Homo sapiens: one gene and its partners. The protein of the gene in region 4 interacts with the protein of the main gene of each other region in a pairwise test. Each region holds a gene or a part of one and is shown on either strand. Other genes may lie near its edges.

The links.
Region 1: the proteins of SPTLC1 (region 4) and SLFN12 interact in binary tests that used the Homo sapiens proteins (3 or more experiments, as listed by UniProt).
Region 2: the proteins of SPTLC1 (region 4) and PLEKHG7 interact in binary tests that used the Homo sapiens proteins (3 or more experiments, as listed by UniProt).
Region 3: the proteins of SPTLC1 (region 4) and ANKRD23 interact in binary tests that used the Homo sapiens proteins (3 or more experiments, as listed by UniProt).

The regions. Positions count from the first base shown.
Region 1 is NC_000017.11:35,429,122-35,438,126, reverse strand, and holds the start of SLFN12 (ribonuclease SLFN12), read left to right. Parts: upstream 1-5,626; 5' UTR 5,627-5,939; intron 5,940-7,513; exon of another isoform or gene 7,514-7,656; intron 7,657-9,005. UniProt on the Homo sapiens protein: Ribonuclease which is part of an E2/17beta-estradiol-induced pro-apoptotic signaling pathway.
Region 2 is NC_000012.12:92,705,521-92,713,816, forward strand, and holds part of PLEKHG7 (pleckstrin homology domain-containing family G member 7), read left to right. Parts: intron 1-950; coding exon of another isoform or gene 951-1,111; coding exon 1,112-1,618; coding exon of another isoform or gene 1,619-1,633; exon of another isoform or gene 1,634-2,129; coding exon 2,130-2,152; coding exon of another isoform or gene 2,153-2,195; exon of another isoform or gene 2,196-3,029; intron 3,030-8,296.
Region 3 is NC_000002.12:96,837,348-96,842,253, reverse strand, and holds the end of ANKRD23 (ankyrin repeat domain-containing protein 23), read left to right. Parts: intron 1-68; coding exon 69-194; intron 195-1,341; coding exon 1,342-1,467; intron 1,468-1,739; coding exon 1,740-1,838; intron 1,839-1,923; coding exon 1,924-2,022; intron 2,023-2,158; coding exon 2,159-2,257; intron 2,258-2,428; coding exon 2,429-2,527; intron 2,528-2,609; coding exon 2,610-2,705; 3' UTR 2,706-4,342; downstream 4,343-4,906. UniProt on the Homo sapiens protein: May be involved in the energy metabolism. Could be a molecular link between myofibrillar stretch-induced signaling pathways and muscle gene expression.
Region 4 is NC_000009.12:92,112,414-92,121,266, reverse strand, and holds the start of SPTLC1 (serine palmitoyltransferase 1), read left to right. Parts: upstream 1-5,853; 5' UTR 5,854-5,896; coding exon 5,897-5,953; intron 5,954-6,200; exon of another isoform or gene 6,201-6,345; intron 6,346-8,704; coding exon 8,705-8,812; intron 8,813-8,853. UniProt on the Homo sapiens protein: Component of the serine palmitoyltransferase multisubunit enzyme (SPT) that catalyzes the initial and rate-limiting step in sphingolipid biosynthesis by condensing L-serine and activated acyl-CoA (most commonly palmitoyl-CoA) to form long-chain bases.

The DNA of each region.
Region 1 (9,005 bases), on a different chromosome or scaffold from region 4:
TTTTTTTTTTTTTTTTTTTAAAGAGAAAAGGTCTCACTGTGTTTCCCAGGCTGGAGGGTAGTGGTGTGATCATAGTTCACTAGAGCCCTGAACTCCTGGGCTCAAGTGATCCTCTTGCCTTAGCCTCCCATTGCTGGGATTATAGGCATGAGCCACTGTGTCAGGCTTAATTGGGTTTTGATGGGTACCTGCCTATCTCTGTAATTTGGCTCTAGTCATATAGGACCTGCTTCATTAAAGATCTGAAAATCTATCCAGCCATTGTAAAATGAAACAAAATGTTTTGAAAATTTAAATTAGCCTTTTATTTTAGTTCAGACATATAGAAAAGTTGCAAGCATAGTACAGAAAGTTCCTATATACCCCACTTAGTGCCCTCCTTTTTAAAATTTTTTTAAACCTAGCTTATTTCCTTTAAGATTTCTGAGAATTCCAGGAATGCTCACAGATCTGTCCTTGTAGTCTCCTGCCACTTCTTGCTATGGAGTGCTGTACCAAGGTCTCTGCTAGTTTCTAGTTGGCTTGACATAATGACTTTCCTAAACTTCTTCTGCTCTGAATCTCAAGCATGGAAAGCGGTCACATCTTTTGTTTCACGAATTAACAGTCAACACCTGGCCCTACTTTTAACAAAACTTAGTAAAGCCTTGAGCATAGTGAAAGACAAATATTTAAATTATATATTAGCAGGAGGCTGAGGTGGGAGGATCATATGAGGCCAGCCTGGGCAGCATAGCATGACCCCCCCCTCGAGAAGACAACAAAAAATTATCTGGGTGTGGTGGTGTGCTCCTGCAGTCCTAGCTATTCCAGAGGCCGAGGCGAGAGGATCGCTTGATTCCAGGAGTTCAAGGCTGTAGTTAGCGATAATCGTGTCACTGAATCCTAGCCTGGGCAACAGAATAAGACCCCATGTCTAACAAAATAATAATAAAACAATCAAAAGTTTAAAATTAGTTATTAAATGTCAGTGTGCCCAGAGTCCTTTGACCACAGATGATCCTGATGGCCTTCTCTCGCCTTGTCCCTGTGCCTCCTTCTACCATTTTTCTTCCTGAGATTCAAAAGTAAGTAGCGGACAGGGTTCCCATTTACCACTAAATACTTCAGTGGGTGTTTCCTAAAAGGACATTTATAGTACCATCATCAAAATCAGTAAATTAACCCTGATACTATTATCTAATCTGTAGACTTTATTGAATTATATCAGTTGTGCCTCAAGTGTCTTTATGTTTTTTTCTCAAAAGAGAAAAAGTTCTGGTCCAGGATTTGATCTAAGATCATGCATTGTATTGAGCTTTCCTTTCTTTTAAGTCTCATTTAATCTGGAGATGTTAATCTGTCTTTGTCATATCTTTGACACTATTGAAGAGGACTGGCCTATTATTTTGCAGAGTATCTGATTTTGGGTCATTTCATGTGTTCTCATGATTAGATTCAGGTTATGCATTTTTGGCATGAATTCCATAGAAGGGCTGTTACGGTTCTCAGTTCACGGTATTAGAAGGCACTTGATAGTGATTAGTTCCATTCCTGATGATGTTAACTCTGATCATTTGGATAAAGTGGCGTCTGCCAGGTTTCCCTACTGTGCAGTTACAATTTGCTTTTTGTAATTAATAAAGTGTGTGTGTGTGTGTGTGTGGAGGGGGGGTGTTTTTGCTTCTGAACGCATAATATTTGAGATTTTTTTCTAATTAAAAAGTAATTATTCAAAGAGTTCAGAGAACTGATACTGATCACATTCTTTGACCCCACATGCAAATACATTATAAACTAGTAATAAAACGGTAACTAGAAAAATGTTCATATCTTTTGGAATTAAAAAAGTGTTTAACTCGTGGATCAAAGCAGAAATTCTGTAACCATTGTCACAGCAGGTTCTAACAAGCAAGTTTAAGGAGGAGAGAATTTCAGTCCTAGAGAATTTCAGTCTTATTCAAATGCTTTCCTAGAAAGAGGAAACAGTTCCTAACTAATTTCATGAGGCTGGCATAATCTTGATAACAAGTCTGATAGGTAAAGTATGAAAGGAAAATTGCAGGTCACTCAATTATCACTCAAATATCTACATGAAAAATTCTAAACAAAATTTTAGCAAACAAAATCCAACAATTTGTAAAAGTGATAATACACCACGACCAAGGTGGTTCAAGTCAGGAATTCAACGTTGATTTTGGCGTTAAAAAATCAATCATCAGGCCCAGTGAGGTGGCTCACTCCTGTAATCCCAGACTTTCTGGAGGCTGAAGGAGGAAAGATCCTTCAGGCCAGAAGTTTGAGTCTGCACTGAGCTGTGACTGCATCACCGCACTCTAGCCTGGGTGCCAGTTTGAGACCCTGTCTCCAAGAAAAAAAAATTAATCAGTGTAATTCACCACAGATTAAGAGTTCAAAAGAGAAAAATCACATGATCATCTGAATAGAGGAAAAAGCTTTTGATAAAGTTCAACATCCATTCATAATAAGGACTCTCAGCAACTTAGAAGTATAAAAACACTTTTGGAAATCAACAAAGGGAATTTACAGCATGAACAAACAGCAAGCCAGCATGGTGGCTCACACCTGTAATCTCAGCACTTCCAGAGGCCAAGGCAGGAGAATCACTTGAGCCCAGGGGTTAGAGACAAGCCTTGGCAACATAGCAAGATCCTGGCTCTACAAAAAATAAAATAAAATGAAATAAAATTTAAAAATTAGCTGGGTTTGGTGGTGTGTGCCTGTAGTCCCAGCTACTGGGAGGCTGAGGTGAGAGGATCACTGGAGCCCAGGAGGTGAAGGCTGCAGTGGGCTAAAAACAACCAGAACAACCCCCCAACCCCCTCCCCGCAAAACACTATAAAGAATAGCAACACAAGGTTCAATGTAAACTTTGATATGGTGTTTTACCTCTGAGGAGAGGCTTATTGTTAATATTCTTTAGCCGTGTAAGGGGTTCACAGATGTTCATACTTTTGTTCTTTATACCTTATATGTATTCTATAAATATTGTTTCTACTCAATAGTTAATAAAAACATAATTTAAAAGTTCTGTGAATGTTTTTACTCTGCTCACTTTTGAGGGGCCTTTTGGGATATGCATTTTCTATTCCAAGTTGATCTGATATGTCATGCCTGCCACACACATTCCCATGGGAACAACTTCTTAATGTCTTTTGTTTCTGCCTTGGAAGCCATCCTGGTGCTCTGGGAAAATCCCTGCACTAGCATTTTCTTTTTCTTTTCTTTTCTTTTTTTTCTTTTTCTTTTTTTGAGATAGAATCCCTTGCTCTGTCTTTCAGGATGGAGTGCAGCCGTGTGATCTTGGCTCACTGCAACCTCTGCCTCCATCCAAGCGATTCTCATGCCTCAGCGCCCCCACACCCTCCCCAGTCCACCACAGTAGTTGGGACTACCAAGGCGCGCACGACTATGCCCTCTCACCATATTGCCCTGGCTGGTCTCCAACTCCTGAGCTCAGGCAATCCACCCACTTCGGCCTCCCAAAGTGCTGGGATTATAGACGTGAGCCACCGCACCCGGCCTGCGCTAGCTTTTTTTCTTTGTTTCTTTCTCTTTCTTTCTTTCTTTTTCTTTCTCTCTCTCTCTCTTCTTTCTTTTTTTCTTTCCCTCCCTCCCTCCCTTCCTTTCTCTCTTCTCTCCCTTCCTTCCTTCCTTCCTTCCTTCCTTCCTTTCCTTCCTTCCTTCCTCTTTCTTTCTTTCTTTCTTTCTTTCTTTCCCTTCCTTCCTTCCTTCCTTCCTTCCTTCCTTCCTTCCTTCCTTTCTCTCTCTCTCTCTTTCTTTCTTTCTTTCTTCTTTCCTTTTTTTTCCCCGAGACAGAGTTTTGCTCTTGTTGCCCAGGCTGCAGTGCAGTGGCATGATCTCAGCACACTGCAACCTCCGCTTCCCAGGTTCAACTGATTCTCCTGCCTCTGCCTCCCTAGTAGCTGGGATTACAGGGGTCTGCCACCACGCCCGGCTAATTTTTTTTGTATTTTTAGTGGAGACGGGGGTTTCACTACGTTGGCTGGGCTGGTCTCGAACTCTTGACTTCAGGTGATCCACCCACCTCGGCCTCCCAAAGTCCTGGAATTATGGGCATGAGCCACTGCTCCCAGCCGGCACTAGCATTTTCTAAGCCAATGACTGAAGAATAGTTTTTTAACTTCGGTGAGACTGTATCCATAGAGCTGGCGTCTGGATCAGATGAGAAGAAGAAAAGCGCAGCTATGTGCTTTCAATATATACGTTATTTAATGTGAATAGGTACTCTTCCTAGGTACCTTAAGATTTTAGAATAGGCAGTAGGCAGTTAATGCAGTCCAGAGTGGGGTAGGTGGAGCTTGCGGAGAAGGAGCAACTCAGACTTGCACATTCCCCTGTGATGAGTCATCGTGGCCTGTGTGCATTTCAAAAGCTATGTACTGAGACACCAATTCTTAGACAAGTTAGCAGGAAAAACATGTATTACCATAATTATCATAATAAGGGGGCTAAAGGAAAGCAAAGTGGCAGGAGGACTGTATCCGGCCAGACTAGCCTTTGGAGCATCCCAATAAAGGAATCTCCCAAATGGCCCCAAGATGCTCCCTACACTGCCAGGGGTAGGTATTTGAATCTGTCTGTCCTGGAGCAATCCGCTCCTTGCACCTTTGTCCTCTCCTGTCCATCCACAGCTGCCCTGGCCTGGTTCCTGGGGGCAACCGTGCTTTTAAGCAAGGGGGCAGCAGTGCTGCTCTGGGAATGCGAGTACAGCTGGAAAGGTTGAGTCACCCCTTTAGGGGCATGGTAAGAATGCCTGGTATTTCTTCAATTTTGATGAACCAAAATAGTGACAATTGCCCAAAGGCGCAGAGTCGATAATAAAGAGTGCGGACACTTCCGGAGCGCCAGCTGCCCAATAGAAATGCAGGCCACGCTGGGGAAGTGTGGAGCCGCAGCCCAGGATGGGGAGGGCCGGAAAACAGAAAAGGATTCGCGTTCTTTTTACTCTGTGGAGAGTGAGCCCGCGGACTGTAGCCTGGGCCTCGCCAAGTTCCTTTGTTCTTTGTTTTCTTTAAATTACCTTTTTTCTTTTTGTCTTAAAAAATACACATGGGTGAAAAAGAAACGAGAGCTCCCTAGAGATCACTCAGAGCTGTTTTCGTGGGTTTTTAACTTCCAGTTGCTCAAGGGTCCACGCTGGCATCTGGGGTGTGCTCGCACCTGCGAAGAATCCAGCTTCTAGGGAGCACCGCGAGCTGGTAAGTTGGTCCTGCTCCATCGCTAAACCTTCCAGCCTTAGTTTTTCATTTCTGGGGAGTCTGCTGGCTCGGGAGGAGGTGGGGCACTGGTAACACAACCCCACCACTCCCGGGAAGATCCCCGCACCCCCATCCCGGTCTGCTTTCTCTCCCTTCTGAAGCAGGAGAATAAGGGTCTGGAGGAAAATCCCAACTTTCCACAAACTTCCTTTGTAGCCCCTCCTTTTCTACATGGCAGATGAAAAACTGAAAATACCTCTGATTGGTCCCCTCCCGCAACCAATCAGACTGGTCTCCAGGGCCAAGTCTTCATGTGCATAGGAATGTAACTTTGTAACTTCGCTTTCTGCGTCCAATCAGATGTTTTCATAGGGCATAACTTTGTAACTTCACTTCAGCCTCCCATTGATCGCTTTCTGCAACCATTCAGACTGATCTCGGGCTCCTATTTCATTTACATTGTGTGCACACCAAGTAACCAGTGGGAAAACTTTAGAGGGTACTTAAACCCCAGAAAATTCTGAAACCGGGCTCTTGAGCCGCTATCCTCGGGCCTGCTCCCACCCTGTGGAGTGCACTTTCGTTTTCAATAAATCTCTGCTTTTGTTGCTTCATTCTTTCCTTGCTTTGTTTGTGTGTTTGTCCAGTTCTTTGTTCAACACGCCAAGAACCTGGACACTCTTCACTGGTAACATATTTTGGCAAGCCAACCAGGAGGTAAGCCCAAAGTCTGGGATTTATTTTTCTCCTTTCCCTTTTCCTTTCTGCTCCATACAGGTAAATCTCTCTCTTTCTCTTTTCCTTTCCAACGTGGGATCCTTGGTGGGTAGCGCCTAGACACGGAGGCGACTGCAGGTTTCTGGCCGGGGGCTACTCTCCAGTGCTGCCTTGAAGGCCAAGGAGTGAATGGGGATAGTTGCCCTGCCCAGAAGCGGGAAGGGCTCTTTTCTGTCTTTTCTGGTTGTGGTCCCTGATCCCTATGTGTGACGCAGCTTCTCCAGGGCGAACTCACACGTGTTTCAGGTGACTTAAACCTTCTTTCCTTATGTTAAATTCTTCCCTTCCCCTACTCTACTGGCTAAGGTTAAAAGAAACCCACCTAGCCTCCATTTCATATCATTAAAGTTCATGACTATCACTCTAGTGGAATGGGAACCATGGGAAAGCATGGCCTTATCAAATTATAAGGATGCTAGAAGTCAAGGCCTTCATCCAGAGACAAAAGGAAAGCTCACAGTAGGCCATCCCCTCTGGAGGGAAAACATGTAAAGTGGCACTGGTGACCACCTAAGGTCAGAGACGTCTGACGCTCTAAGATTGGACCCTAAAGGGGGATGCTCTGGAGGATCCTTTGGACCTCAGCCTCTCCAAGGGGGTTCCTTTGGTAGAGGTTCTTAGGCCTAGTACTAAGCCCTCCTTAGAATTTTCTCTTCCGGTTGCAGTAGTGTTTGGCCTCAATATTGTTTGGAATCTGGAGTTTGCTGTTGAATGGTAAAGTGGGATGGAGTTGCATGTATGCAGGCTCTTGTGCTGCTGTTCTAAGCAGGGTTGTGTCGGGTTAAAGTGTGATGTTCTCCTTTGGTGCTGTTTGGCCTCAGCGTTCTTTGAAGTGCGAGGAAGTTTGACCTTTAAAAATCAAACTGCCATGGAAACCGCTGACTTATAAATTGCTAAAGTTGTTTATAACCAATGTTTGGTTTCTCAAATCCATATTCCTGGGAAGACAATCAAAGCTTCAGGTACATTTGGCTACCCGATGGGCCATTTAAACATTTACAAAGGGATTTTATTCAATGTCACTTTCAATGCATGTTTTCTTGTTGTATAAAAGCTTTTCCCATGATTATGCTACAGTGTATTTTCACCAGGTAAAGAAAGCTTTTTATGGTTCACTGAGAACAATCAACCCCTTCACAACCTAGAACCCATAGGATAGATGTTCTCAGAACATCTACTGTAAAGGCCATAGTTACACAACAGACTTTAAATTCTTTTGTGAAAGTTATGATAGAATTGGCTGAACAGAGAAGTATCTGTGCAGCTGCTGGCACTTAGAGTCTATGGAGAAATACATTAAATGAAGATTAAGAGATTCAGTTGTAGGGGATTAATGAGGAGATTGTTTACTTAAGTTGGTAGATTCTTTATTTAGTTCATTATTTGATCTATTTAATTTTAACTGGTTTGGTTTATGGGAACCCTGGGCAAGGAGCATCCTCCAAACTCTTGGTATTATCCTCCCAATAGTCATCATAATAATAGGCTCCCTGGTGCACTGTATTCTCTCAAAGGTTTTCGATGTTTGCATGCAGCCATCTCTAGAATGTCAAATGGTCTCTCTTCAACTGGAATGATGAGAAGTGAAACAAATATGCGACCATGAGGACACTGTAACCTATGGATGGTGTGCTGAGACTGGAAACCCAAAATGATGGTAACTGAGAGCGGCGCTAAGGCCTTACGTTTTGGTTACATTCTCACCTAAGTGAGAACCTGAACAAAAAGGGGGAATTTTAAAAAACAAAATTGTGAAAGGCCAGTGTTTTGGACTGAGCTCATGGCCCCAACAGACCAAACCAAACCAAAATGGAGTTGCTCATTCTAAGACTTTAAGGAAACACATAGATCCTAGAACAGACCAAGTTTTTGTTTTTCTCCTGCAAACAGAATGTTTCAGTGAGCAGGACACCCTCCACCGGTAACACTTTCCTGTCTCTGTAGCAACTTCTAATAAACTGCAGGCTGTTGAGGACTTCAGAATGGTGGACTTGGAAGCTATAGGTCGGGTGGAACTTTTGCTCCTGCATGGGCTGGGGAGCAGCCCAGAAAATTTAAAGCATTACCAGAAAATTTAAAGAGCTGTGGGGCCAGTGAGCCAGGGATCTGCAGTGTTCAAGCAGAGCTAGAGAGGCAGGGAGGGCAGAGTGCTCTATGGTCAGGCCAGGCTTGGTGGGTGTCCAGACCTCCCAGGGTTATCCATCCTCCTGGAGTCCTGAACATGCAGGGAGTTGGGGAATAGGTTCTTTAGGTGAAATGCGACCAGGCACTGATGAACTGCATTGCTAGATCCTAAAAGAAAAACCAAGCACCCTCATGCCCTGCTGGTTTATTATCTAGAAGGCGGGAAGGATGAGAGCAGTGCTGTCCTGAACTAAATGCAAAGTGACATCCTAGGAGGGCAAAGAGTGTTGCATGATTTTTGTTTCCCAGGAGGTAGCTCTTACAACTTCTGTCCCACCCTGTGGGCAGTTCCTACTAACCTGCTGTTCTGACATAACTCTAAGGAGATCTGAATGCTGTCTCCTTTCCCATTAAAGATAGCCAACAACAAAGCCTAAATAGTGAGTTCAGGTCTGATAGAATTTCCCCTATAGTCAAAAGTATAAAGGATTTCAGTGGAAACATCTAACCTGTAAACCTAGACCCAAGGTTTAAGGGAGGCCAGTAAGTTTTAGGCCCTAGGGATTTGGTAAGCTCAATCCCCAGCTCATTTTTTAAGGGTTTTGTCCCAGATGTATGCTTGAAGGCAGTGATTTTCAACTATGGAAAGTTTTACACAGCTGCAGATGTTGGACTGGGGTGACCGGGATCCCAGGCTAGTTCACAAGCGCTGGGTCCTCTATAAGGTGGCTCAACTGCAGCTCCCATGGGTTCCAAGTTTCTCAGTGGTATGAGCACCCTCCTTAATCAATCTGAGGGTGAGATGTGATTTCTGTCCCCTTCTGTGTATGGTGGGTTAGGCAAAAAAGTTTACACAGAGCCCAGCCTGATGTAGACAGTGCA
Region 2 (8,296 bases), on a different chromosome or scaffold from region 4:
AAAACTATTATTGATGATCTTGGAATATACGGTCAACTACTAATGTTCCATCCACAAACAATCCACGCACAGTCTGAAGCCACCTCCCATGCCATCTGCGGCCAGGGAAGATGGGTCTCTCGCCTGTCCCACAGTCCCACACCTGGTCTGCAAATCATCAAGCATCAACTCTCATGCCATAAGGGATGTGTAAGGATTGATGTTTTCCCACACATACCTTCTTCATGTGGGAAAGTACAGAATAACGAAACTGCAATAAGCCACTCCCATGAATCAAGCTGTGAAATGGAAGGGTCAGCTTTTCTTGAGCATGAGAAGAGATAATTCTGCATGCATAGATTGCAAAAAACACCTCCAATCATGAACAGTAGGGTACCTGGTGATGTCTGGGTTTTTCTTTTCAAACCTGCAAGTCCTTTTTCCAAAATGTAAAGATTGATAGAATCTAAGATAAAAGACGTTGTCAGATACTTTACATCAGTTACCTTCAAAGCCTGTCTCATTCTGTAATTTAAACCTTGAGGGAAGGAGGCTTGTTTTCCTTGTTCTTGCATCCCCAGAATGCACCACAATATGTACATACATACATAAATGTAGATGATAAGGAGGATTTAATGTATATTTGATTCTCTTAAAATGGAATAATCACAAGGGGAGGAGCTATGTGGTTTCCAGGAAGTACCTTAAGTTACCAAAGTTTTTAAAGGCTTTTTTGTTTGAACCTAGAAGGAATATTAAGTAGACAGTAAACAGACTTCAATACGCTATTTAGATGAGAAGGCTGGAGTCACGTATATTAATTATCTTCTGAACGTAAAGGATGCTGATGTGAACTGAGCTCTATTGCCTATGAAGAATTAGAAGTTTTCCTTTGAAATTTTAGACCTTTTTTCTCACTGCAGTCTCCCTCATTTGCTACATATTTCACAGTCTGCTCTTCCTCACTACAGATGCAATAACCTGCTTGACATTCTCCTCTGGAAAAGGAAAAGAACTACGAGAGGAAGCATGGCACTTGGATGCAGAAATTGAGCACCCTCCATGTGATCCAGAGAACAGCAACTCATACGTCTTCTGGAACCTTCTACCAACAGTAGAACCTCTTAGCTTTATGGAGAAAACAGAGTCATTCTGTCCAGAGGTGCCACCCCAAGACTGTGGAGCCTCTCCTCGGCCCTCGCTGAGGAGCCTGCCAAAGAACCAGGGGAGTCTCCTCCAGTTTGACCGGCAAGCCCCAGGCCGCATCTCCACCTCGCCCACTTTGAGGAGATTAAGGACCCGTGGCTGTGGGACAAGGCAGGATGCCTGGCAGGTGACCACCTGGGGAAGCTGGGGAGCTCCTGTGGGCTTCCCATGTTACCTTTCGAAGAGCCTGCCAGGAAGCCCAAAGGATTCTTCACACTTGCTGTCACCCTTGAGACTCCACTCAAGATTGACCTCTGAACCTGAAAGGGCCCTGAATGCAGCTGACTCACTGGAGCCCCAAACCCGGCCCACTGACAAGTATCTCCCTCCTGAGCTTCAGCCTGTCAATGAAGGGTCCCTTCACCAGGCCTCTCTTCGGCAGCAAGAAGGCCACTTCCTGCCCAGCCCCACCCTACGACACCCTAGTCCTCAGGTAACACAGCTCTAAGCCTCCGGCCTCTCAGTTGCTGAACCACAAAGCAAAATAGATCTCAGAGTTGCTTAGTTCCCCCAAGGGCCAGTAGATCCTAAAAAGGAGACAGCACAGGAAGTCACACTGAGGGGACACATTCTCTTTAGGAAGCATTGGCTCTTAAGTGAAAGGAGGGCAGCAATCTGGGGAGGAAAGAAAATGATCTCGCTCACTTTCTTCTGTCCTTAGAGGCACTTTGAGAAAGGATGCACCAAGGCCAGGCTTACCGATGGTCTGTCAGGTACCCGAGAGCAATGGGGGCCCTCTTGCAAATGCACACTATTTAAAGACAACGTCGTGTCACTGATTTAAAAGGGGAGAAAGAGCCAGTTATTCAAATTTCCAATCCCACCAAAATGTAAAACATGTTTTAACTAGGAGGGCTCATTGTTTCTCCTTTCAACATGTTTGCTTTGGAGTTTGGGATGGGTTTGAGCAAGACTAAAACATATGTTCTTAAAATTTATTTCAGGGAGAAGAATTGCACCCATCCAGGTGTGTATGCATTTATTTTCTCCGGTGCTATGACATCTGTTGACTATTTACTATTAGATTTTTATTTCTGTCCTGACATAACAAAGCTGACGGTGTGTTAACCAGTGCACTTTGTTTTATAGCACTCAAGTCACTCTTCGCATTTATAGGTGCACGAGTTTTCATTTCAAGAGTCTCCCTTTAAGAGCACAGCATTTGGGGGCAGGATACAATGCCATATGCAGTCATAGTTTTCATTTTGAATTGTCAATGTCTTGGCCCTGTGGCTTAATTAACATCCACTTAGTAATAGGTTTTGTCTGGTAGAGAAAATAGAAAGGCCAGAGATATGCAACAGCTTTTCAAAGAAAAATTTGGAGGATAAAAGAAAGGAACAAGATGTCCTGGTTAAATCTAGGGTGACCTTTAAAATAACCTGTTATGACAGACTGTGCCCTTATCCAGAATGAAGTAGACTGTGTCATTTCCAAAACCAGCTCTGAACTTTCAGCACGGCCCCCTGGTTGTAGCAATGGATCTGCCATCTCTGACAGGGATGAAGAGTTTCTGCAGCAGCAAGGGAAAGATCCATGCCCAATTTTATCTTCCTGACTTGTGGGATTGGCAGGAAAGCCCTCATTTCATTTGAAAAGTCACAGAGGATTTTTTTGGAGAAATAGCTGCTGTTTTATTACTGGACCTCAATCCTCAAGCAATAGTTTGATATTCATAGCAGTAAGGATAACATCCATGTACACATTCTTTGTTGATTTTAATCCTTGTTGGCCTAATTGTACCAACAAAGGTAGAAGATACTTACCAAGCCATAGGGAAATGCAAATTGTTATGTCTGTGTATCAGCTAGCTGTTGCTAGATAAAAAACCACTTAAAGTAACAGACAGTTATTGTTTCTTATAAATCTCTGTGTTCCCTGGGGGTGACTTGGTCTAGGCTGGGTTTAGCTGAGCAGTTCCACTCCAAATGTTCCTTATCCTGCTCATGGGATCAAAGGGCTCCCATGGGTCCATGGGATCAATTAAGCAGATTCTTTATACAGTGAAGGGAGAGGTTCAAGAGGACAAGTAGAAACATGCAAGGCCTCTTGGAGCCTGGGCTCTGAATCTGGTCTAATTTTATTGACCAAAGCAAGTCACTCAGTTGAACTCAGCGTCAGGGAATTACATGTTACCAACAGTGGGAGAGCATTGAAATGTTACATGGCAAAGTGTATGGATGTAAGGAATGGGGAAGAGTGGGGCTGTTAATGTAAATCTTCCATACATGTGAAACAGAATAAAGCTCTCAGATGAGATCTAGTTCAGTTGTGTCAAAGAAAGTGGAAAAGGGTAGTCTTAGAAAAAAAAATTATGTTTAGAGTCGAATTATTTTAATAAGATTTTGAGAAATTTTATTCCTTACCCTAAGAGCAGTGTGAAACCATTTGATGAATTGATATGATCAGATGGATGTCAGATATACCTGGGATTTAGATGCAAGTAGACTTGAGTCAAATAATTCGAATGTTCAGGTATGAGAAGTTGTTAAGTTAGATTATGATGAAGGCAGTGGGGTTAAAAAGAAGTATCTCAATGCAAGAGATATTTAGGAGATACAATCCCCCAGACTTTGTGAATGGTAGCCTATCAGGGTGAGGGAAAGGAATCTTCAAGAATGACCTCCAAGCTTCTGGCTTGTTCAACTGGGTAACCAAGGTGTCCATTCACTGACCTAGATAAACTTGGGTAAAGAAATTAAATATGAGTGGTTAGAGTGTAGGTCTTGTGTTCAGGTTTGGACATGTTGAGTTTGAGGAACTATGAAACATCTAAGTGGAGATTTTGAGTAAATAATTGGTTAGAGAAGGCACCAGGGGTGGATGTACTATATGTATATTTGTGAGTCTTAAATCAAGGAATGTTTCCTAGAGCAGGTAAAGTCTGGGTCCAGCTCTGATTATTAGATGGAGCCGGCAGACATAAAGGCAGATCAATGGGATGCATGAAGCCATTTGCAAAAAAATGATGTGAAGGTAATTTCCATTGCCATATGAAATCTGTGAGGAAATAACAAAAATAGTCTTGGTAAATTTTAAAAGAACAGCTAGGTCAGGCTGGGCACAATGGCTCATGCCTATAATCCCAGCACTGTGGAAGGGCCAGGCAGGCGGATCACTTGAGGTCAGGAGTTTGAGATCAGCCTGGCCAACATAGTGAAACCTCATCTCTACTAAAAATATTTTTTCTTTAAATAAGCTGGGTGTGGTGGTGGGCACCTATAACTCCCTTCTTAGCCTGTTGACTTAAAGGTAGGAGGAGCCCAAAGTGTCCAGGTGGCAATTTTAACTTCAGTTTAATGGAAACTTTCTTGCGTCTCCTGGTGGCAGTGTTCCTCCCTCTGGAACTAAGACCTCTAGGCCAGCAGAACGTAATGTCACAGGAACAGGAGGCAAAAATTTGGCTAGTGGATCACTAGGGGTGATGATGAGTAGTGCCACTTTGACTTCCACCCCTTGATTCCTGAACCTGTGAATCCTGGCTATGGGAGAAACAGTACCATATATTGGATGCTGATTCAGAGCATTACATGGCCATCCAGAAAACTTTGTCCCAGCCCTGCAAAGTATTGTCACCTAGTTGGCACTACGATTGTGACTTCAAAAGGCCATTCCACCATTCTGTCAATCTAGCTGCTTCAGGATAATGGGGAACATGGTAAGACCAGTGAATTCCATGAGCATGAACCCACTGTCGCACTGCTTTGTCCATAAAGTGAGTGCCTTGGTCAGAGGCAATGCTGTGTGGAATACCATGATGGTGGATAAGGCATTCCATGAGCCCACAGATGGTAGTTTTGCCAGAAGCACTGCATACAGGATAGGCAAACCCATATTCGGAGTAAGTATCTATCCCAGTGAGGACAAACCTCTGCCCTTTTCATGATGGAAGAAGTTCAGTATAATCAACCTGCCACCAGGTAGCTGTCTGATCACCCCAAGGAATGGTGCCATATCGAGGGCTCAGTGTTGATCTATGCTGCTGGCAAACTGGGCACTCAGAAGTGGCTGTAGCCAGGTCAGCCTTGGTGAGTGGAAGTCCACTTTACTGAGCTTATGAGTAACCTCCATCCCTACCACCATGGCTACTTTGTTCATGGGCCCATCGGGCAATGACAGGGGCAGCTGGGGAAAGAGGCTGAGTGGTGTCCACAGAACGGGTCATCCTATCCACTTGATTATTAAAATCCTCCTCTGCTGAGGTCACCCATTCATGAGCACCTACGTGGGGTACAAATATCTTCACAGTTTTTGACCACTCAGAGAGGTCTATCCACATACCCCTTCCCCAAATTTCTTTGTCACCAATTTTCCAATCATACTTCTTCCAAGCCCCTGACCATCCAGCCAATCCATTGGCTGCAGCCCATAAATCAGTATATAATCGCACATCTGGCCATTTCTCCCTCCATGCAAAGTACACAACCAGGTGTACTCCTCGAAGTTCTGCCCACTGGGAAGATTTCCTTTCACCGTTATCCTTCAGGGATGTCCCAGAAAAGGCTTGTAGTGCTACAGCTGTCCACTTTTGGGTGGTGCCTGCATATTGTGCAGAATAATCTGTGAATCAGACCCTAGTCTTCTCTTCCTCTGTCAGTTGGTCATAGGGAACTCCCCATGAGGCCATTGGTGCAGACTGGGGGAGAGAAGGCAGGGTGGCAGGAGTGGAGACCATGAGCATTTGAGCCACTTCCTCATATAACCTACTTGTGCCTTCAGGACCCGCTTGAGCCCAATCACATATATACCACTTCCATTTGATGATGAAATGCTGCTATGCATGACCCACTTTATGGCTAGATGGGTCAGAAAGCACCCAGTTCATGATAGGCAGTTCAGGTCGCATGGTGACTTGATGACCCATAGTCAAATGTTCAGTTTCCACCAAAGCCCAGTAACAGGCCAAGAGCTGTCTCTCAAAAGGAGAGTAGTTATCTGCAGAAGATGGCAGGGTCTTGCTCCAAAATCCTAGAGGTCTCTGCTGTGATTCACCTATAGGGGACTGCCAAAGGCTCCAAACAGCATCTCTGTCTGCCACTGACACCTTAAGCACCATTGGATCTGCTGGGTCATATGGCCCAAGTGGCAGAGCAGCTTGCACAGCAGCCTGGACCTGTTGCAGAGCCTTCTGTTCTGGACCCCACTCAAAACTGGCCACCTTTCAGGTCACTCGATAAATGGGCCAGAGTAACACACCCAAATGAGGAATGTGTTGCCTCCAAAATCCAAATAGGCCTACTAGGCATTGTACCTCTTTCTTGGTTTGAGGAGGGGCCAAATGTAGCAACTTATCTTTCACTTTAGAAGGAATATCTTGAAAGGTCCCACACCACTGGACCCCTAGAAATTTTACTGAGGTGGAAGTTTTCTGAATTTTAATCAAATTTATGTCCCATCCTCTGGCATGCAAATGTGTCACCAATAAGTCCAATGTATTTGCTACTTCTTGCTCACTGGATCCAATCAGCATAATGTCATCAGTGTAATGGACCAGTGTGATATCTTGCGGAGGCGAAAAGCGATCAAGGTCTCTCCGAATAAGATTATGACACAAAGCTAGAGAGTTGATATACCCCTGAGGCAGGACAGTAATGGTATATTGCTGGCCTTGCTAGCTGAAGGCAAATTGCTTCTGGTGGGCCTTATGGACAAGAATGGAGAAAAAGGCATTCGCCAAGTCACTGGCTGCATACCGGTACCAGGAGATGTGTTCATTGGCTCAAGCAATGAAACCACATCTGGTACAGCAGCTGCAATTGGAGTCACCACTTGGTTAAGCTTACAATAATTCACTGTCATTCTCCAAGATCCATTTGTCTTCTGCACAGGCCAAATGGGAGAGTTGAACAGGGATGTGGTGGGAATCACCACCCCTGCGTCTTTCGAGTCCTTGATGGTAGCATTAATTTCCACAATCCCTCCAGGGATGCGATTTTTTTTTATTTACTATTTTTCTAGCTAGAGGTAGCTCTAAATGGCTTCCATTTTGCCTTTCCCTCCGTAATAGCCCTCACCCTACCAGTCAGGAAGCCAATGTGGGGGTTCTGCCAGCTGCTAAGTATGTCTATGCCAATTATATACTCTGGTCCTGGAAAAATGACCACAAGATGAGTCTGGGGACCCACTGGACTCACTGTAAGTCAGACCTGAGCTAAAACTCCATTAATTACCTGACCTCCATAAGCCCCTACTTTAACTGGAGGACCACAATGATGTTTTGGGTTCCCTGGAATCAACCTCAGCTCAAAGCCAGTGTCCAGTAGTCCCCAAAATGTCTGATCATTTCCCTTTCCCCAGTACACAGTTACCTTGGTAAAAGGCCAGAGGTCTCCATAGGGAAGGATGGGAAAAAGATTCACGGCATAGTGAATTGAGATCGCACCACTGCACTCCAGCCTGGACGGCAGAGCAAGGCTGCATATCAAAAAAAGATTCACTACATAAATTGTCAGTAATGTAGTGGGGTCCTTCCTCAAGGGGACCTGGCCTTCCCTTTATTCAAGGGGTTCTGGGTTTGTAAACTGGCTCAAGTCTGGAAATTGATTGAGGGGCCGTGATTCTGTTTTTACAATTCAAATTAGTCTTGTCCATTCAACCTAGAAGTTTTCTGCTTATGAAAATTAGGTAGGAATGTAGTAGGCTTCCTATCAATTTTAATTCTAGGAACACTGTAATTAATTAGCCAGTGCCAGCACTCTACAGGAGTCAGTCTATTCTGATTGCCGCTTTGCCTCTTCCGTCCATTATGGTAGCTACACCCACCTTGCCTTTGATGGTTGAGTGCTGCCACCTGGCCTCTGCCACCTTGGGATCCAATTATTCCCATTGTATTTAAATTTTGTAGTTGAGTGACTGCAGTTCCCACTGTTAGATCTGACATACAGAGAAGAGCAATTACAGGGCTCTTCAAAAATGCAGGTCCTGCCCTCACAAATCTATTTCACAAGGCATTGGTCAAGGGTGTATCTTCTGACCCTCTCTACTGGGATGAGTAGGTCTAAAGTGACTAATCCACTCCACCATCCCAATCTCCCTAAGCCTTTGGATCCCTTCCTCTACATTAAACTGAGGGAGATGAGGCATTTCCAGCTCACTCACAGTGGGCTATCTT
Region 3 (4,906 bases), on a different chromosome or scaffold from region 4:
TGTCGGCAGGGCAGAGAGATCTCTTGACCAGCGGCTGATGGCTGGCATGGTCTTGTCTTCTGCCCCAGCTTGAAAGATTTAACAGTACCAGATTTAATCTGGATAACCTGGCTGACTTGGAAAACTTGGTTCAAAGACGGAAAAAGCGACTGAGACACAGAGTCCCCCCCAGGAAACCTGAGCCCCTGGTTAAGGTGAGTGGGAGGTCGGGGTTAGGGCAGTGCACACACCAGGGCTCCAGTTCCAGAGGAAGGGCTTGGGGCAGAGTGGGCACTGCAGGCCAGGACCACACAGCCAGTGCCTGGGGAGCCCATTAAATCCACTCCAGAGCCCCCGCGGATGTGTCCGCCAGGGCTGCCATAACAAAGTCCCACAGCCTGGACAGCCTCAACAGCAGGCATGTGTCACCTCGCTGTCCTGGGGGCTGGAAGGCTAACAGGAAGGTGTTGGCGAGGCTGGTTCCCTCTGAGGGTGGTGAGGGAGAATCCCTTCATGCCTCTCCGGCTTCTGGTGGATGCTGGTGATCTTTGGCGTTCCTTGGCTTGTAGATGTATCACCCAACTATTGCCTTCATGTTTGCTGGGCGTTCTGCCTGTGTGCATGCCTGTGTCCATGTGTCTCCCCCAACTTTTTTTTTTTTTTTTTTTTTTTTTTTGAGACGGAGTCTCGCTCTGTTGCCCAGGCTGGAGAGCAGTGGCACGATCTCGGATTACTGCAAGCTCTGCCTCCCGGGTTCATGCCATTCTCCTGCCTCAGCCTCCCGAGTAGCTGGGACCACAGGCACCCGCCACCACGCCCGGCTAATTTTTTTTTGTATTTTTAGTAGAGATGGGGTTTCACCGTGTTAGCCAGGATGGTCTCAATCTCCTGTCCTTGTGGTCTGCCCGCCTCAGCCTCCCAAAGTGCTGGGATTACAGGCATGAGCCACCGCATCCGGCCCACGTGTCCCCTTTCATAAGGACATCAGTCACATTGGATTAGAGCCCACTTTAACACAAGTCATATTGGTGAGGGGCCCACCATACGCCGGTGTGACCTCATCTTAACTAATTACATCCTCAGTGACTCTGTTTCCAAATAAGGTCACATTCTGAGGTACCTGGGGTTAGTACTTCATACGAATCTTGGGGAGATACAAGTCAATCCATAACACACACGCTCACACACACACAGTCTATTCAATCTCCTGGCGTGGGATTAGAATAAGAAACTGCATTAGTACGAGCCAGCAGTGTTCCTTGGTGGGCTGCATGGGACCCGTGGGCCAGACTGGTGAAGCTGTGACATCTTGGGCACCTGCGGCCTTCGGGAGTGATTTGGTCTTGTCTTCAACTGAACCAGCCGCAGTCCCAGGCCCAGGTGGAGCCTGTGGGCCTGGAGATGTTCCTGAAGGCAGCTGCTGAGAACCAGGAGTACCTGATTGACAAGTACTTGACAGACGGAGGGGACCCCAATGCCCATGACAAGGTAGCACAGGTTGGGTGAGTCGGCTGGCAGCAGCTGCAGCTGCAGGAGCGCTGCCTTCAGTGTGTTCAAGTCCTGGCCTAGGAGGCTGCAGGGATTTTCACTCTTATGGGCATGAATCCAGTGGCACCTGCAGACGGAGGAGAGGGAGCGGCCCATCGCGTGGTGGGGGAAGTGGCAATTCCATTCAGGGACCTGGCCCTGGGAAGGGGACCGCGTGGGGTCTCTAGGGGTGGCTGCACTCCCTCTGCCTAATCTTCCATCTCTGCCCTCAGCTCCACCGCACCGCCTTGCACTGGGCCTGTCTGAAGGGTCACAGCCAGCTGGTGAACAAGCTGCTGGTGGCAGGTGCCACAGTGGACGCGCGAGACTTGGTGAGGATGGGGAAAGGCCCAGCCTCTGGTCGACGCCCAGCTTCACATCCCAGCAGCTGAGTGCTTGGGTGCTTTTGTTTTGCAGCTGGACAGGACACCTGTGTTCTGGGCCTGCCGCGGAGGACATCTGGTCATCCTCAAACAGCTGCTTAACCAGGGAGCCCGGGTCAATGCCCGGGACAAGGTGAGGGGCACGGTGCTTTGGGGGCCTGTCGGGAACACGGGAGCAGACGCTGTTCCTGGAGAAGAGAGCACGTAGTCCCATGGGTTAGGGAGGCCTCACCAATCCAGACCCAGCACTGACCCCCACTTGCTCTCAGATCGGGAGCACCCCCCTGCACGTGGCAGTGCGCACCCGGCACCCCGACTGCCTGGAGCACCTCATCGAGTGTGGCGCCCACCTGAACGCACAGGATAAGGTAAGGCAGGCGCTTGGTCTTTTCCGGCTCGGACAGCTCCAGAGGAGCAGGGACTGAGGAGCCCCAGCCAGGACCAGAGGTGCTGTCTGCTCGGTGACAGCAGCCCTGACCTTCCTGCATGAGGAGGGCAGCACGCGGAGGCAGAAGCTTGACTGCCTGCGTTCTCAGCAGGAAGGGGACACGGCTCTGCACGAGGCCGTGCGGCACGGCAGCTACAAAGCCATGAAGCTACTGCTGCTCTATGGGGCCGAGCTGGGGGTGCGGAACGCGGTGAGTGTGGGCGCAGCCCTGGCTCCTGACCCGAGGGCGGGTGGAGCGCCTGCAAGGGACTGACCCACACCGTTGCTCCCAGGCCTCCGTGACCCCGGTGCAGCTGGCTCGAGACTGGCAGCGCGGCATCCGGGAGGCCCTGCAGGCCCACGTGGCGCATCCCCGCACCCGGTGCTGACCGCAGCACCGCCCCCCGCCGCGCCTTTCGCACTGCCACCATTCCATCCTGTGCCCCGCCCCCGCGTCTGCACCTCTGTGGTTCCTGCCCTCAGCCCTGGTTCCTCCCTCTCTGGCCTGTGCCGCCTCAGCAGCCCTGGCAGAACTGAAGAGCGGCACCGGGCCCAGCAGGCAAAGAGAGAGGCCTCCCTGGCTTCGAGTGTCAGGGGAGCCGCGTTCCCTCCCAGGGCTGGAGCAGAGGACCACAAGGCAGCAGAAAGCGCGGGTCCAGATGAGGGCCAGGAAGGGGAGGAGAGTGAGGGCCAAGAACGAGCCTTAAGGGAGCAGTCCCAAGCTGGAGCCACCCAGGGCTGGGTCTGGGAGTCCTCAGTGTCCACTTGTCCCAGGTTAGGGGGCTTGCCTTGCTCTCTCCAGGGCCAGTCTGTGTGTGTGGGGACTCAGCCCGTGGCCGGCAGATGCCATCCAGGATGTACAAGGTGCAGCCAAGGCAGGCCATGCAGGGGCCGGGCCTGTCTGCAGCTGGTGGATGCCTGTGGGCATGGCTTTCTCTGGGGACCCCATTCCTGTCAGTAGCAACCCTGGCAGTGTCCGGAGCGGCTCTAGACAACTTTGGTCATAGGAACTCTGGAGGTGGGTTCTGGTCATCTGAGGTGGCTACTCAACAGGTTTGAGGCCCCACAGCAACAGAAGTCCAGGACCCACTAGGTTGCCTCAGAAGCCCTAAGACTGATGAGCTGGAGCGCGCATTTGAGAGAAGCCTCGCACCCACTGTGTACTGGCCCCGCTCAGGCCGGCCTGGCACACCGTTGCCTGCTGGCGGCTCTCATGGGGAAGCGCCTGGGCACTGGGGATTGCTTGTGGCCCACTCAACTCTTGGGGCAGTGGCCCGTAACCCTAGTTTGCCTGAGGCCCTTATGTCCCCTTATGTTCCTGGTACTGGAGCTTGAGCTCTTGCCTGGAACGCTGCAGCTGCACCCACCCTGCTTGATCCCACCTGGGAGGCCAGGACACTGAGGAGCTCTGAACCCAGCCCACAGGGAAGCAGAGGAAGGTGAGCCCCCGCCGCCCCCCAGCCCTTCCCATCCCTTCCCTGCTCCCTGGTGGTCTAAGGACCCAAGCTCCCTAGACTTCCTCTTCCACCGTCTGTACGTTTCAAATTACACTGGTGTAGGCCTGTACTGCTGGTGGGGCTGGGCCCCTAAACGCCAGAAAGTGAATCTTAAGAAGCTCTGCCCTAAACTGAGAACCACATGCTGAGGGAAGGGCTGAAAGGTGAAGGCTCAGCCTCCCTCACATGGGTCCTGGGTTACATTAGGTACCGGGCTGATTGATAGGCATTTGGCCATGGTTCCTTTTCGTCTACCTTTGGGGGCCTTCTCAGGCCCAGAACAAGGCTGTTGTTACTATGTGGAAAAGCTGACCAGTGCTGCACACTAGGGGCACACACCTTTCCATGAGCAGCTCCTGCCCTGTGGCGACAGCCAGCGTGCACCCAGACGCTGGTGCCATGGCGAAGCAGGCGTTCAAGACCATGGAGAAGACAACTCCTCATCTAGAAAATGAGGACACCTCAGTGACAAACACACCTTTTTATACCAATCAGTATCCTCTGTTCATTAAAACTGGCTATCCATTACAGCCTAGCCGTCTTTCCTGGGCCGAGAGGAGCCCATGCTTCAGTCACCAGGGACTGTCTGATAGGGCCCACGCCTGTTAGCCATGCCGGCCGACAGCAAGATAGGCCGAGTGCAGAGTGGGCGGGATGCGGGGTCCTGGCACTAGGCTTTTGTGCTTAAGGCACCTCTGCTCACTGACGACAAGGTCAAAGAGCAGTGGTTCTCCACCTCAGCTGCTTATCAGAATCACCAGGAAGGTTTAAAAAGTCCTGATGTCCAGACCCTAAGTCAGAAGCCCTGAGGGGAGGATCCAGGTATTCTCATGCAGAGGCCATGCTTGTCTATGTGGGAAATCCTAGGAATCTACAGAAAGCAGACAACTAGGGAGTCCAGCAAAATCTCGGGTGCAAGATAAACACACAAAAACCTGTTTCTACCTCCTAGAAATGAACATGTAGACACAAAAGTTAAAAATATGTACTGTTTACAATTGCTGAAAAAGGGAAATACTTCGGTTTAAATCTAACAAAATATGCAAGGACTTGTATGCTGAAAATTATAAAACGTGATGAAATCAAAGATTTAA
Region 4 (8,853 bases):
GGTTCTTAAACCTTTGGGCGAGGACTGAATTACACCACTGATGTTCCTGGTTCTTCAATTTGCAGATGGCAGATTGTGTGACTTCTCAACTTCCATAATCATGTGAGCCTTTTTTTTTTTTTTTTGAGACAAAGTCTCGCTCTTGTCCCCCAGTCTGGGGTGCAGTGGCATAATCTCGGTGCACTGCAACTTCCGCCTCCCGGGTTCAAGCGATTCTGCTGCCTTAGCCTCCCAAGTAGCTGGGATTACAGGTGCGTACCACCATGCCCAGCTAATTTTTTGTATTTTAAGTAGAGACGGGGTTTCACTATGTTGGCTAGGCTGGTCTCGAACTCCTGACCTCAGGTGATACACCCGCCTCAGCCTCCCAAAGTGCTGGGATTACAGGCATGAGCCACTGCGCCTGGCCAAGCCAATCATTATAATAAATCTCCTCTTATGTAGAGATCTATATATGTTTTATTTATCCTGTTTCCCTGGAGAGCCCTATTATACCCCAGAGCATGTCAATGTGACCTTATTTGGTGGAAGGGTCCTAACAGATGTAATGAAGGATCTCAAGATGAGATCATCCTGAATTATCCAGGTGGGCCCTAAATCTAATGAGAAGTGACTTTATAAGAGACACAGAGGAGAGACACATACAGGAAGAGATGGCCATGAAAAGATTAAGGTAGAAATTACAGTGATGCTGCCACAAGCCAAGAATTCCTGGAGCCACCAGGACCTGGAAGGGGAAAGAATGATTCTCTCCTAGAGCCTTCAGAAAGAGAGTGGCTCTGTCAATACCATGATGTTGGACTTCTGATCTCCAGACTTTGGAGAAAAAAATTTTGTCTGTTTTAAGCCACATAGTTTGTGGCAATTTGTTATGGGAGCCCTAGAAAACTAATACAGATTTTGGTACCAGGAAGTGGGTGCTACTTTAATAAATACCTCAAATTGTGGAAGTGACTTTGGAACTGAGTAATAAATAGAGGTTGGATGGTTTTTGAGGTACTTGAGAGAAAAGTCATAGAATTTCTTGAAGAGACTGTTAGTGGAGTTATGGATTTTAAAGGCAATTCTGGTGAGGGAACAGAAGGAAGTGAAGAGCATGGTAGAGAATTCTTCCATCATCTTAGAAATGTATATCTCATCATGAGCAGAGTGTTAGTAGAAATACAGATGTTAAAAGTGGTTTATGTTGAAGGCTAAGAAGGAAATGAGGAACATGTTACTGGAAACTGAAGGCAAAGTGATCCTTGTGACACAGTGGCAAATAACTTGGATGAATTGTGTCCTTAGGTGGACAGCAGAATTTGTAGGCAATGAACTTGGATATTTAGCTGAGGAGATTTCTAAGCAAAGTGTTGAAGATGCAGCCTGGTTTCTTCATGCTGTTTGTAATGAAACAGAAAAGGAAATAAGCAAATTGAGGAAGGAGCTGTTAAGCAAAAAGAAACAACACTTGATGATTGGGAGCTTCTCGGCCTATTCAGATTGCAAAAGATGCTAAAATTGGGAAACTCACTGTTGGGAAAGTGTACTCTGGATACAGGGCCGAGGGTGTGCCTAGACAATATTGTGCTGAAGAGATCTGCTATACAACTGATGGATCCCTCAATTATCTCACGGATCCAAGGATAGATCCAGCGTTATCCAGGAAAGATCTGTGGGGGTTCTTTTATCTAATGGCATGGATCCCTGTGACATACATGGGAGCCTCAAAAGTTCTTGAGAAGGTTGTACCAGAAGAAACACTGTCAGCTTGGCCTGAAGGGGCTGAGACAGGACAAAGTGAAAGAGAGGCTGTCAGATATGCACAATTCTTCAGGCAAGAAGAGGACTGATAGAACTACTCAGGTATCAGCATGTGCTGCCCTTCAAGAAAAAGGAAGAATCACTATGAGGACAGGGTCATGGGCACAGGGGTAGAGGCTGAATGTTCAAGAGCAGAGACCTACCAAGTTGCCATGAGCAAAGAGGCCTATGAAGCCATGAGCCCAAAAGACACAGCTTCAAGCCACAGAGGATTATTCCCAGACCTTGAAACCAAATGACTTTGCCTTGTTGGATTTCTAACTTGCTTGGGATTGATGACCCTTTTATTCCTTCTAATTTCTCTGCTTTGCAGTGAGATTGTCTATCATATACGTGGCCCACCTTTGTGTTTTCGAAGCAGGTAACTTCTTTTCTAGTCTCACTAGTCAATAGATGCAGAGGAATTTTGCCCTTGCATAGCTCATACCCATAGACTCACCTACACCTGATTATTTATATGTGAATATTTGAGACTCTTTGAATTAATTTTTATGATATTTAGGTGAGAGTTAAGACTTTTGGAGATGTTGAGACGGAATGAATGTATTTTGCACATGAGGCAGATGTGAATTTGGAAGGCCAGAGGTTGGACTATAGTAGGTTAAATGGTAGAGCCCAAAAAGACATGTTAACATTCGAATCAGGGAATAGAACCTGGGAACATGGCCTATTTGGAAAAAGGTTCTTTACAGATGTAACTAAGTTAAGGCTCTCGCTGGAAGAGGCAAAAAAAGTCTTCTCCCCCCAGAGCCTTTGGAGGGAGTATAGCCCTGTCAACACCTTAATTTTGTACATCTGGCCTCCAGAAATGTGACAGAATAAATTTCTGCTGTTTCAAGGCACCCAGTTTGTGATCGTGTGTTACAGCAGCCCTAGGAAACTGATACAGAGGCCAAGCAAAAGTTCCAAATCAAGCAAAGTCCCACGGTGTATTCCTTCCAGTTATCCCAAAATATAACAATCCCAAAACAGTGGCTTAGAACAATAACAATCGTTTATTTTTGCCCACACATTTGGGTGTCATCTGGGCTTAGCTAGGCATACCTCACTCAGGGTCTCTCAGTGGTGGTAACCAGATGGTGGCTGGAACTGGAGCCACCTCGAAGGTGTCGTCCCTCACACGTCTGGTACCTGGACTAGTAAGACTCAAACAGCCAGGGACTGGGGCAGCTGGGGCCCCTTAGTCATCTCTTTCCCCTTCTATGTGGTTCTCACATGATCTTTCTACATGGCAGCTGTATTCTCTTATAGAAGCTGCCACAAAGATATGCCTTTTGATGAGTGTGTAAAAGAATTTGCAGATAGTACCATTGACTCAGAATTGCAGAGAGTATGGTGAAGTTCACCCCTCAGAGTTGTCTTGCTAAGTAGGGCAAGGAAGCTGCAATATTTATATCCCAGCTACCATCAGTAATCCACACTGGTAAGTACTGCCCAGGAGAAGATACATTCTCAGATACTTCCAACTCTCCAGGAGAGCAGGAAACGTGGGAATGGCAGCCTTCAAGGGGGTCCTCTGAGAAATGCAGGCGTGGCTGCTGGAAGGAAAGCACCCGGGGGAGGAAATGCACGCAAGCACAGGACTGTGAGCAGAGCACTGACACGGACTCCATATCGCCAGCTTATGTGGAAATGTAGCACATAGTGTAGCGGCATCATTATCTGGGGTAATACCTGAGGTTCATTGTCCCACAGCCATGGAAAACTAGGACGCGACACACCACAGTGAGGTTAAGAGCAGAAGTTTAATAGGCAAACGAAAGAGAAGAGCTATCTGTGCAGAGAAAGGGGTCCCAGAGAAAATGGGTTGCCAGTTCTGCGGTGAAACGCACAGGGTTTTATAGATGAGCTTGAGGAAGTGGCGTTTGATTTACGTAGGGAATGAAAGACTGGTTGGACCAGGTGTGCCATTTGCATAGTGCATGAAGAAGCTGGCCTTCCCACCCTAATATTTTATTCTGCAGATGGCTTCTCTACCTGACTGATGCCATGTTGCCTGTTCCTTCACTGTACACGTGGTGACAAAGAAAATGGAAGATGGAGTCTCCATATTGAACATACCTGGCTTCCAGGTAGTCTTTTTCTATCGGCACAACTGCCAGCATTCTCCCGTGCACTGCCAGCTTGCTTATCTATGTTTGTAGCTCAATTTTTCAGGCTGCTCTTTGCAAAAAAGAAATAATTTTGGGGTTGCTTTTTGTTCAGAAAGAAGCTCTGCTGAGGACTCTCTTACCTTCACTATCTGCCTAAATAATTTCTTTTTGGCTCCTGTATCAATAGCACTGGTACCATTTCAGAATTCTGGGGAAAGTCAGGGTTACTCAAATAAATGGCACTCAAAAAATTGTTATTCCTTTAGAAAAAAACATAATTAAGTCCCTTAACTCTCATTATCCAAAAATATAGTTTCCAGAGTAAAGAGCTAATTGCAAATAACAACAAACTGCTGCAAGAATGGTTGGAAACCATAGATGTGGTGAAGAAGGCCTTTCTAAGCAATATGCAGATCCAGAGGCAAAAAACAGACTGAAGCACTACATAAAATTTAAAATTAAAGTATGATGAAAGAGCAGAAACAACTAGGCGGCAACTGAGCAAAAATATTTTTCACATATGAAACAGAAAAATATAAGATATTCAGAATGTATAGAGTTCCTACAAATCCATAAGAAGGCAAAAATAACCAATAGAAAAATGGATTAAGAATATGAATTGGCGATTCATACAGTCTATAAATGCCAATAAACATATAAGAAGCTGCACAACCTCATGAGTAACCAGAAGCATCAATAATAAAGGATAGTGAGGTATCATTTTATCTCCATTAAACTGGCAAATTTTTTTAAAAGATTGATAATATCCATCATGGACTAGAGCATAGAAAAACTTCCAAATTATTTTAATTGGTTGAGCCATTTTGGCAGTACTTATCAAAATTAATAACGTGCATAGTCTTCAGATATATCCCATGTTGAAAAAACTGGTCAGAAAAACTCCAACATGCACAGAAAGATATACACACAAGGAACATCGACAGTTATGGCAGCATTATTTGTAATAGGGGAAAGGTGGGAACAACATAAGTATTCACCAATAGGGAAACGTTTACATAAAATGGAACGATGAATATACATAAATTATTCCATGGAAGTCTTCAGCCATTAAATATGAGATATATTAGGAAAAAAATGCTAGAAAAAAAATTTAAAAAAAGTTGTAGAAAAGTCTTGTCCCTATGATCTCAATTATATTTAAGAAATCCAATCCAATTAAGTATGTGCGCGTGCATACTGTTTGCATATGCATTGGAAGGCTCTAAAAGGTTCTTTACCAAACTGCTATATGATTTAATACCTGCAAAGCCTTGGCCTATGTCTGACAAAACAGGAAGTGCTATATGGGTTGGCTATTTTTGTGTATAATTATGCATTTCTTAATGATAATGCATTGCTGGATTACTTATGCTACTAAACGTAAACGTATTGGCCAGGCGCGGTGGCTCACGCCTCTAATCCCAGCACTTTGGGAGGCCGAGGCAGGCGGATCACCTGAGGTCAGGAGTTTGAGACCAGCCTGACCAACATGGAGAAACCCCGTCTCTACTAAAAATACAAAATTAGCCAGGCGTGGTAGCCCACGCCTGTAATCCCGGCTACTCGGGAGGCTGGGGCAGGAGAATCGCTTGAACCCGGGAGGCGGAGGTTGCGGTGAACCGAGATCACGCCATTGCACTACAGCCTGGGCAACAAAAGCGAAACTCCGTCTCAAAAAAAAAAAAATAAAGTAAACGTATTGCAATCATTTTAACTCTCTGCGCCCAGCTGATGACCAAGTGTAAGGCCCGTTCATTACTACTTTCTCCATCCTGAATCCAGCAGGGAGGGTAATAGGACACAAGGTAAACAATTCTTGGAAAAACTGCGGCATCCCACCTGACCCCGTCCAGCCTCCTGTCAACCAGTGCGCAAGTGCGAGTAGGCGGTGCCCAGCGCTCCGCCGCCCCGCCCTCTGCGGAGGTGATAACGACACTGAGCAGCGACGCGCACTTTTGGGACGCGCTTGTGACCCGCCTTCCGGAAGGAAGCGGCTAACTATGGCGACCGCCACGGAGCAGTGGGTTCTGGTGGAGATGGTACAGGCGCTTTACGAGGTGGGCTCCGCGCCATTAGCGGTCCGCGACCACACCCGGGCCCGGGGAGGGTGGGAGGACGCGTGTGGATTTGTGGCCTGAGACCTCGGCGGGACTGGCTCGGTCACGCCCAGACTCGGTGCCTCTTGCTGGAAGGACTGCCGGGAGCTTCTAGTCCCAGCGGTTGAGTGTAGGGAGGAACGGGCGGGGGCGGGGGCTGGGACTGAGGGTCTCGGTTTGAATTCTTATGCTCCGGGTCCCCTGGAAGCTCCGGAAAGGAACACGTGTAAGGGGACGCAGGAGACAGGTCTGCAAAAACCAGAGTTTAGACGGACGATAAAACGGAGTGGTGAAAATGAGTGGAACACCTTCGTCTGGGAAGGTCCTAAGGAAGTCAGCTCTTTGGAACTACGGTACAGTTCGTTGGGGAATAAAATTGTAATAAATTGGAGTTTGTTTTTGTCGAAAAGAAATCAAGTGACTTAGGATTTGTGAATAAAAAATAGTTTGTCATTCTTCTGCGTACATCAGTTTTCTGTCTTATAAAGATACAACTAGTTTAGTCGATTTTTATTTATTTATTTTTGTTTTTTTTTTTTGAGACGGTGTTTCGCACTTGTTGCTCAAGCTGGAGTGCAAGGGCGTGATCTCGGCTCACTACAACCTCCGCCTCCCGGGTTTAAGCGATTCTCCTGCCTCAGCTTCCCAGGTAGCTGAGATTACAGGCATGTGCCACCATGCCCGGCCAATTTTGTATTTTTATTAGAGACGGGGTTTCTGCATGTTGGTCAGGCTGGTCTCGAACTCCCGACCTCAGGTGATCCGCCCGCCTTGGCCTCCCAAAGTGCTGGGATTATAGGCTTGAGCCACTGCACCTGGCCGTAGACTTTTAAAGGAAGAATAGTTAAGAGTTTTTTGAAGCCTAGTTATTTCAGATACATAAGATAATAAGAAACCAGAATGTCAATCTTAGTGTTCATTCATTTAATAACTGAGAGTCCCCGTGCTGTCTTGCAGAGCTATTCATTGGGCACTGAAGAACTTATTTTATTTTATTTTATTTTTTAAAGACAGGGTTTCACTCTGTCGCCCAGGCTAGAGTGCAGTGGTGCGATCAGCTCACTGCTGCGTTGACCTCCCAGACTCAAGCGATCCTCCCACCTCAGACTCCCGAGTAGCTGGGACCACATACCACCATGCCCAACTAATCTTTTTTTTTTTTTAATAGAGACGGGGGCTTGCTGTGTTGCCCAGCCTGGCCTCGAACTCCTGGCCTCAAGTAATCCTCCTGCTTTGGCCTCCCAAAGTGCTGGGATTACAGGCATGAGCTACCACACCCAGCTGCAACTGAATTTTTAATTTAACTTAAATAGCCACGTGTAACTTAGTGACTGTCCACATTGGACCACACAGATCTAGATGCTAGGGATAGTGCGGTGAACAAATAGGCAGAAGTCCCTGTGCTTAAAGAGCTTACATTCATTTCAAGTGAATTTCACTTTACTTTTGATGATTTAATATCACCAAACTTAATATCACCGTCTACTGGTAGGGGTAATGACAGTGTCTTCCATTGCAGGACATACTGGGAATTTTATCTTGAAACAGCAGAGACAGCAGATGTGGCTCTGTCTTATGCTCATGTATTAAGTGATGCCCAGTATTAGGTTAACTGTAGTGACCTAAAATGAGCCACTAAAATTGAATGATCTTTTTTATAAATGATTTTTTAAAGAAATGGATTATTTTCTGTTAAATGTTGTTTGCTCCCTTTTTGAAGACTGACAGTAGTGTAACTTCTCATTCCCCGAAACTGTCCAACAGTGAGACTTGGGAGAACTCCTGTATGTAACATTTCCTGGGAAGGAAAAGAAGTGGTGTTTGTGATTTTTATTAATTCACTAGAGAGAGAGTTTCTCAGCTTTTCTTAGGGTGATTTCTTTTTGGAGTGGGCTCTTAACTAGTGGCTGGGGCAGATGTTTGCTTGCTAGAATCCAACTATTGAGAAAACTAAAAGGGTATTTAGACTTATTCATAAATGAATTGTATTTAGGGGGATGAGCAAATTTTAAAATTCATCATAAACTTCTTACTCCCAAATCCTATGCGTGTTGAATGTAGAATTTGAGTAGTCTTGTATAGTGTACCCAAAAAAGAACCACTGAAATTAAATAATCCGATGGTTAATATTGGGATTCTGTGTTAGATTTTATTTATTTATTTATTTGAGACGGAGTTTTGCTCCTGTTGCCCAGGCTGGAGTGCAGTGGTGTGATCTCGGCTCACCACAACCTCCACCTCCTGGGTTCAAGCGATTCTCCTGCCTCAGCCTCCCAAGTAGCTGGGATTACAGGTATGCGCCACCAGACCCAGCTAATTTTGTATTTTTAATAGAGACAGGGTTTCTCCATGTTGGTCAGGCTGGTCTCAAACTCCCGCCCTCAGGTGATCTGCCCACCTTGGCCTCCCAAAGTGCTGGGATTACAAGTATGAGCCACCACGCCTGGCCTAGATTTTATTTTTTTAATTTTAATTTTTATTCCCAAAGAAGTTTTAAAAGCTAAAAATATTAGGGGTTTTTCATGTGAGGGAGAAATTGCCTGCTATTAGAAATGGGGAAAGGAATGAATAGAAATTAAGGGAGCTTCGAAAGTAAATTGTTAAGAATAGGCTAAAAGTCACAGGAGGCAGTATATGCAGGTGTAGTAAATTTTATGTGCAGGTGTTAGAAGTGTATGTTTCATATCTTACTTGTTTTTGACTCACTCTTAGGCTCCTGCTTACCATCTTATTTTGGAAGGGATTCTGATCCTCTGGATAATCAGACTTCTTTTCTCTAAGACTTACAAATTACAAGAACGATCTGATCTTACAGTCAAGGTACGAAATTAAATCTCTGTTTTAATTATTGGGTATGTGAT